Homo sapiens: one gene and its partner. The protein of the gene in region 2 purifies or fractionates together with the protein of the main gene of each other region. This does not show direct contact. Each region holds a gene or a part of one and is shown on either strand. Other genes may lie near its edges.

Region 1 (3,617 bases), on a different chromosome or scaffold from region 2:
CAATCTTTTTTTTTTTTTTTTTTACTTCTGTCAGCTATTTGATATACTGTAGTTTTTGAGGGATGTGTCTATTTCATCCAAATTTTGCATTTCTATAGCATCTGAAAGGCTGTCCCATGTTTTCATTCATGGTATTGGCAGTTTGTTTTCTCTCAATTTCTTGATCAGCCTTAGGATTTTAAATTTATGAGTCTTTTCAAAAACCAACCTTTAGCTTTGATTTTCTCTGTTGTACATTTATGTACTATTTTAGTGATTTTTTTTCTTGTAACTGTATTTTCCTTCTTTGTACTTATTTGGGTTTGATTTGCTACTTATTTCTAGCTTTAAAATTGGGTTTTATAAGAAAGATTTCAGTCTTCTTTTATATGCATTTAAGACTAAATTCCCATTTAAGTACTACTTTACCTGCATCTCCAAAATTTTTAATATTGTGTGTTTTTATTATTTAACACAAAATATTTTCTAATTTCCATTTTAATTGATCATTATTTAGAAGTATGTTGCTTAGTTTCAGGCAGCAGATGCTTTTCTAGTTATCTTTTATTGGTTTCTGTCTTCCATTGTTGTCAGATAACATATTATGAATGATTTCAATCCTCTGAGTTTATTGAGGCCTTTTTAATGACCATTTTATGGTCAGATTTGGTAAATATTCCATGCTCATTTGAAAAGAATGCAATTTCTAATGTTGAGTGCAGTGTCCTATGTATGTCAGTTAGGTCAAGTTTAATTGTGCTCAGTTCTTCTTATTAATTTTTTTGGTCTACTTATTCTGTCAGCTGTTGAGAGAGGTATTAACATTTCCATTCCGATTTTCAGTTTATTTTTCTTGTATCTCTTGTCAAGTTATCACTTTTATCATAATGCAGCGCCCTTCTTTATCTCTAATAATTCATAGCCCTAAATACGATGGGAGATCCAGTTTTGCCCTTCAGTGCTTTTCCACTTAGCCATTTAGTCTTCTGTCTCATGCTGCTTCAAAATTTGGCAAATTCTTTGAGCAGGAGACTGGCTATATGTTAGACATCCTTCAGGTATCCATTTTTGTCACTGTAGCCCCCAAGCATGCCAAAATATCCGCTGGTTTCTCTGTCCCTCAGTAGCAACCTTCTGCCAGAAATCACACCTGGATTATCAACCTAGAACTGTGACCAGAATTGGTAGATGACCCCAGATGAAAAGTTGCTCTTGGTCCTTAGTGTAAATTGACCACACCCTCCAGGGCTTCACCTTTGCCTATTTTGTTTTGGTCCCCTTCCCCTGGCAGATCATGGTCTGCTAGCACCACAAGCCTGGGAGATTTCACTACCTCTCTAGCTTCTCTGTAGCATCAGAATTCAGTTTTGTGAGAAGAATTGGTCATGTGTTTGAGGCTTCTCAAATCTCCAGTTTTATCATTTTAGTCCTGTGGAATCACTAAAAGTTTTGCTTATTTCTCATTCTCCTGGCAGTGACTTTCTGCCTAAGCCAAACTCTCATCTTCAGCTCACACCCTGAATCAGCAAATGTCCCCAGAGACAAAAACAGCTGCCAGTCCATCAGCTGACCTCTGACTGATTCTCCCTTTCTGGAATTTTAATCTGTCTACTATATCTTCTTTCTGTACTTTTCTGATGCCTTTAAAATTTAAAATAAGATATTTGTAATTTATTTGGCTCTTTCCAGTTGTTACCCAAAGTGTTTACCTGCTGCATCCTACTGCATCCCACCCAGAATTAGAAATTCTAGTTGTCATATATATTCTACTTAGAAAATACCTGGATAAAGTTACTTTTCTGACTTTGACTCTCTTTTTTTTCTTTTTGTGTTTCTCCTACTTATTAGGAAAAATATAAACAAGGATTTTTCACCTTATTTGTAATGTATTAGCAAATGTAGTATTTTACTTTCACACTATGGTTTGCTGTTGTCTGGCTTTTTCTTTCTTTCCCCCTGAAGTTCCTTTGAACACAGTGAGATCATCACAGATCTTAAAGATTAGGTTATATGTAAATACTACTATGGGAACAACTAATTATAACATTGATTTTTTTTTCCATGCGTGTAGTTGCAGATAATAATGAAGATGTTGATGGTGATGGTGTTCATGAAATAACAAGCCGAGATAGCCCGGTTTATCCCAAATGTTTGCTTGATGATGACCTTGTCTTGGGAGTTTACATTCACCGAACTGATAGACTTAAGTCAGATTTTATGATTTCTCACCCAATGGTAAAAATTCATGTGGTTGATGAGCATACTGGTCAATATGTCAAGAAAGATGATAGGTAATTTTTTTTAATTGCACAACTAATTCTTGAAACTGAAACTAGTAGAAGTCTTTTTTCTGCCATTGGTAGTTGAAAGTCAGTGGGAATAGAGTTATGGATTTGTATTAGAGAATAGTCTACTAGTTGTAGGTGTTCATCAGTCATTAACATTGATCAGAATGTTGTAGAAGAAATGGAGAACATCTAATTCAGTAATTACTTTTTTTCCGAGATGGAGTCTCGCTTTGTCGCCCAGGCTGGAATGCAGTGCTCAATCTTGGCTCACTGCAACCTCTGCCTCCTGGGTTCAAGCGATTCTACTGCCTCAGCCTCCCAAGTAGCTGGGATTACAGGCACTCGCCACCACTCCTGGCTAATTTTTGTATTTTTAGTGGAGGCGGGGTTTGGCCAGGATGATCTCGAACTCCTGACCTCAGGCGATCTACCTGCCTCACCCTCCCAAAGTGCTGGGATTACAGGCATGACCCACCGTGCCTGGCTCAGTAATTACTTTTAAGTGGAAGGGAATAATTCATTTTAAGTGGTAGAGAGCTTCTGCCAGCTTAGTAGATGTAATTTATGACATAAAGTTGCATTGTAAATATTTTATATTGCATTGTAAATGCTTTAATTGTCTAACCTCATATTTTTCTTTTGAAAGTAATGTTATCTGGGCTTCAGGTAAGGTAAATGAATCTTGAATGTTTTTTCTAAGAGTACTTCTATAGCTAATGCATGCTTGAAATCCCAAATGAAAAGTACAATGAAATACACATTTATACTAGAATTTTTTAAAAAATTGTTTGGAAAGCCAGTGGGGAATGGAAACAGGAAGATTGTCCAAAAAAAGCCCATTCACCTATTCATTTGCCTTAGGGCACACAAAGAAAATATGACAACTCAAAGGGTTTACAGTCTTGTGCCTTTTTTATGTAAAATCAATTTTATGTCTTTTTTTTTTTTTTTTGAGACAATATCTCACTGCGTCTCACTGGCTGGAGTGCAGTGGTGCAATCACAGCTTACTACAGCCTCAACCTCCCTGGGCTCAGGTGATCCTCCCACCTCAGACTCCCACGTAGCTGGGACTGCAGACATGTGCCACCATGCCCAGCTAACTTTTTTTCTATTTTTTGTAGAAACGAGGTTTCATCATGTTACCCAGGCTGGTCCCAAACTCCTGAGCTCAAGCAGTCCACCTGCCTCAGCCTCCCAAAGTGCTGGGGTTACAGGCTTGAGCCGCTGTGCCTGGCAATGTCTATTTTATTATAAACTCTTACAAAATTCTGAAGGAGTTAGTTTATCCCAGCTTTATATGGCAAAGGTATAATCATACTTCTCACTTTATATTTCTATAATAAAATAA
Region 2 (4,400 bases):
TTTGGGTATGGAGGACAACGTTATGTTATAATCATTAGAAGAAATTTCAAAGGCGATAAAGAAAAACTATTTCAGAAACGCTCTTCCCTGAAACACCAAGAAAGTGACCTATTATGTTAATATTTTTGTTATATGCAATGTGCCCTGTTAGTTTTGTTAGAAAATGTACATTTTATTATATCCATTTTCAAATCGTTTCTGGTAGTGGGGTTTTAAAATGATAAATGAGGTTCAAAATTAATTCCAGCCTCCTTTCTTTTAGAAACAGTGTTAGATTGAATCTGCATCAGGCGTGTTTTCACATGCTTGGCTTCATAATCTCTCTTCCTCCCCCTATATTGTTTGCCTGGAATCTGCACTAAAGATAAGGCAGAGTGCAAACCTGACTCATTGGCAACCAATCAGAAGAACTTTATGTGGAAAACTCCCTTCGAGGAGGTACAGGCAGCATGAACAAAATTTTTGAAAAAGTGGAAGCAAAGGTAGAAAAATATGGTTGAAATGGCTAAAACAATTGGTACTTGTTTTAAAACTATATTTCATTTCTGATATGAAACCTTATCTTTTCTTTTAAAGAAACACCTAACAAAATATTTATCAGATCAGCACCACAGTAAAGGGAAAAAGACATTAAAAATTAAAAAAGATAAAATAACAAATATTTATCAGAAATGCTCACCCTTCAAAAAATCTGGAAGATTTTGATTATATATTTTTCCAATTATCTTCTGTTTGGTAAATTTCCAAGTAATTGGATAAATAGTTTATATTTACTTTGTTTTAAAATGACTCAAATTTTCAATTAGAGCATAAGCTTTCAAAAACAATCTGGTCAACTAGCAGACTTTTAGCAAATAAGACATATTTCAGAAACAGAAAATTAATTGTTATATTATTTATGATAGTTATACCTAAAACCTAGGTGTTGTTAAATATTTACATGTTTAACACCCAAGTATACTTAGAGATCATTTATTGTACTCAGTGATTTCTAACAACATGATTATTTTGGAACTTGAACCTATACTATTTGTTTTCATTTTTTTGAAACTTTAGGAGAATAACTTTATTTTAAACCTCTATTTTTCAATATCAGAACCAGAACAACCTGAGAAACTTAGAGCCTTCAATATTTCCACACATTCCTTTTCTCTGCACTGGAGCCTACCCTCTGGTCATGTGGAAAGGTATCAAGTGGATCTTGTTCCTGACAGTGGCTTTGTTACTATCAGAGATCTTGGAGGTGGAGAATATCAGGTATAGTTTTCATTATTGTACTTGCCGAGCCTACTTGTATTTATATTTTGCTCCTAATAGGAAAGTTCTTTATTTTATGAAACCCATCTACCACAAAAACTTACTCCTTGTTGGGTTTTTGAAAGCATAAGTTGAAGACAAAAACGTTGATGTCAAACTGATGAGTGTTAAGTTTCAGCATTGGTGGACTGTTACCTTAGCAACATCTATGCTGCTTTTTTTTTTTTTTTTTTTTTTTAAGTTCACCCTGAACCTACAGCCAGTCATCCAAGGGTTCATGAATAGTTTAACAAAGAAAAGGCAGAGCTATTGAGTAATATGGGCTCATTAATTGTGTACTTGCCAGAAGGATCTGTCTTTAAATCATTAATGCAGGCAACATTTCTCTCTAGAGCCATCAATGTGATTCTACTGGCTGAAAAATGTAATAAAGATGGATTTTCTTATCATTTTTCTTTTACTTTTTATTGGGACTTCAGAGACACAGGTATTTCGTATACACTCTTTAAAAACAAGGGCTAAGTCATGGGCTGTAGATTTCTCAAGACTTGAATAGTTGTTCCTTGTGACAGTGAACTAGGATAGATAGAAATGCTGACTTAGGCTGTGATAACGCAGTACGTTTTGTAAGTTTTTATTTTAAAGTCATTTGGTAAAAAGTTATATAACATATTTGTATCTTACAATAATATGGAACTTATTGTGATGTTATAAACAGTGCAGAGTTATATAGTGAAGAGTTAATTTTTGTTATAGTGATAGATTTATTTTAGCTTGCTTGCTTTCCAGAAAGAATTTTAATGCAACTATTTGTTTGTGGTGTTCTAGGTTGATGTTTCCAATGTCGTTCCTGGTACTAGGTACGATATAACCATCTCTTCAATTTCTACAACATACACCTCACCTGTTACTAGAATAGTGACAACAAATGTAACAAGTGAGTATATGTTTTAAATTACTTTGTAAGTAAAGTATTTGGAGTCAGTATAATTCTACTGGATGGAAATACTTATACTGGCAACATGTACATTAAATTCATGAAAACAGTGTAGAATAAGGCAAAATGGAAACAAGAAAGTGATCTGCTTAGAACCTGCATTCTGCTGTTTCTTCAGCTTCCTTTACTTTCAAAGTGCAAAGATAATTACTCTATACTTGTTTGTGAAATAGATCAGAGAGACTGTTAATGCTAACATTTAAATAATACAGAACCATGAAAATGAACTGGCTACATTTGCTCAGGAAGGATTATTCCATTTGTAAGATTATTTCTTGTTTTCTTAGTTTTTCTGTGTAAGCCTTGCGTAAGTGAATTTCTTTTAAAAATGATTTGGCAACAAAAGTATATTCGGCATGTAGTATTTATTTAGTAGCATTCCATTTTTCACATTCTTATAAAGGAATGCTTTTGGTATTCCACATAGTATTTTTTTAATAGTAACAGAGCTGTAGGGAGTGTGAACTCATATTGCTCTTTGGAAATTTCAAATTTTACATTTATAAATACTGTTATTATGTATTTTTGTGAAAATGCAATAATTATTTGACCTTTTAACAAAATGGATTTTTTAAAAATAGAACCAGGGCCTCCAGTCTTCCTAGCCGGGGAAAGAGTCGGATCTGCTGGGATTCTTCTGTCTTGGAATACACCACCTAATCCAAATGGAAGGATTATATCTTACATTGTCAAATATAAGGAAGTTTGTCCGTGGATGCAAACAGTATATACACAAGTCAGATCAAAGCCAGACAGTCTGGAAGTTCTTCTTACTAATCTTAATCCTGGAACAACATATGAAATTAAGGTAATTATTTTGTGTATGACTACTTAGTGTTCAAACATTTCATTCATTTTAAAAGTGTGGGAGGTTTTTCTCACCTTGTCAAGCCTTTACAGCTGAATACAGTCAGTGACTGACAACGTTCACAGTCATGGCCTCACACCCACCTGAGATTTTAAAACTTGGTAAAATGTTATTGTGTCTTTTCATTTCAATTTTATGCATATTTATATATTACCTATTTCATTTTTTCTATGAATATTTTTGCATATATTTATATACATGTATGAATATAATACAATACTCTAGGAAATAAAAATTATGTAAAGTTAAAGAAGGAAAACTTAAATGCAAACAAGAGGCCAGGGTAGTTTGAATGCAGGTATGTAAACCACAGGATGTTACACAGTTATTAAAAATTGACTTGCAAACTTTATTCTCCAAATTCCTAGAAACCACAGTAAAAAGGGCAATAAATCTGTTATACAATTTACGTATGAAAATTGTATAATAATTGCATATGGGAGCTCAAGTTTTTTTTTTTTTTGGTGCTTTAGACTGGAAAGAAAGTCTTCGTTGAAGGATTAATAGCTGCAGGACTGGATTTTGTAAACTTCTTTCCATAACAGTAAAATAATAAAAGTATACTTAGTAAAAATAATTTTGCCAGGTTTTGAGATATTGTGGTCTAAGAACATGGCCTTGTTCTGTATATAAAATTTAGACTCCAATGAAATGTCTTTTTTTTAAATTATTTTTGATTCAGGGGACATGTGTGCAGGTTTGTTACGTGGGTATATTGTGTAATGGTGGGGTTTGGGCTTCTAGTATACCCATCACCCAAATAGTAAACATTGTACCCAATAGGTAATTTTTCAATCCTCACCCTCTCCTACCCTCCCCATTTTTGAAATCCCGTGTTTATTATTTCCATTGTTATGCCCATGTGTACTCATAGCTCCCACTTGTAAGTGAGAATGTGTGGTATTTGATTTTCTATTTTTGAATTATTTCACTTAGGATATGTTCTCCAGCTCCATCCATGTTGCTGCAAAGAACATGATTTTATTTTTTATGCCTGCATAGTATTCCATGGTGTATATATACCACATTTTCTTTACCCATATGATAGATACTTAGGTTGATTCCATGACCTTGCTATTGTGAATAATGCTGTAATAAACATGAGTGATGGTGTCTTTGTGATACAATGATTTCTTTTCCTGGATAGATACATAGCAGTGAGATTGCTGGGTTGAATACGGTAGATCTATTTTCAGGTCTTTGAGAAATCTCCGTACTGTTTCTCATAGAGGTTACATTTCTAGCAACAGTGTATTAGTGTTCCCTTTTCTCTGCATC

Evidence for each region. The genes of interacting proteins can lie anywhere in the genome.
Region 1: the proteins of PTPRQ (region 2) and AHI1 purify together in Homo sapiens (affinity purification with mass spectrometry, with the first as the bait; one large-scale study listed by BioGRID). This does not show direct contact.

What each region holds. Positions count from the first base shown.
Region 1 is NC_000006.12:135,456,147-135,459,763, reverse strand, and holds part of AHI1 (jouberin), read left to right. Parts: intron 1-2,050; coding exon 2,051-2,270; intron 2,271-3,617. UniProt on the Homo sapiens protein: Involved in vesicle trafficking and required for ciliogenesis, formation of primary non-motile cilium, and recruitment of RAB8A to the basal body of primary cilium.
Region 2 is NC_000012.12:80,442,656-80,447,055, forward strand, and holds the start of PTPRQ (phosphatidylinositol phosphatase PTPRQ precursor), read left to right. Parts: upstream 1-1,579; 5' UTR 1,580-1,690; coding exon 1,691-1,744; intron 1,745-2,085; coding exon 2,086-2,194; intron 2,195-2,835; coding exon 2,836-3,062; intron 3,063-4,400.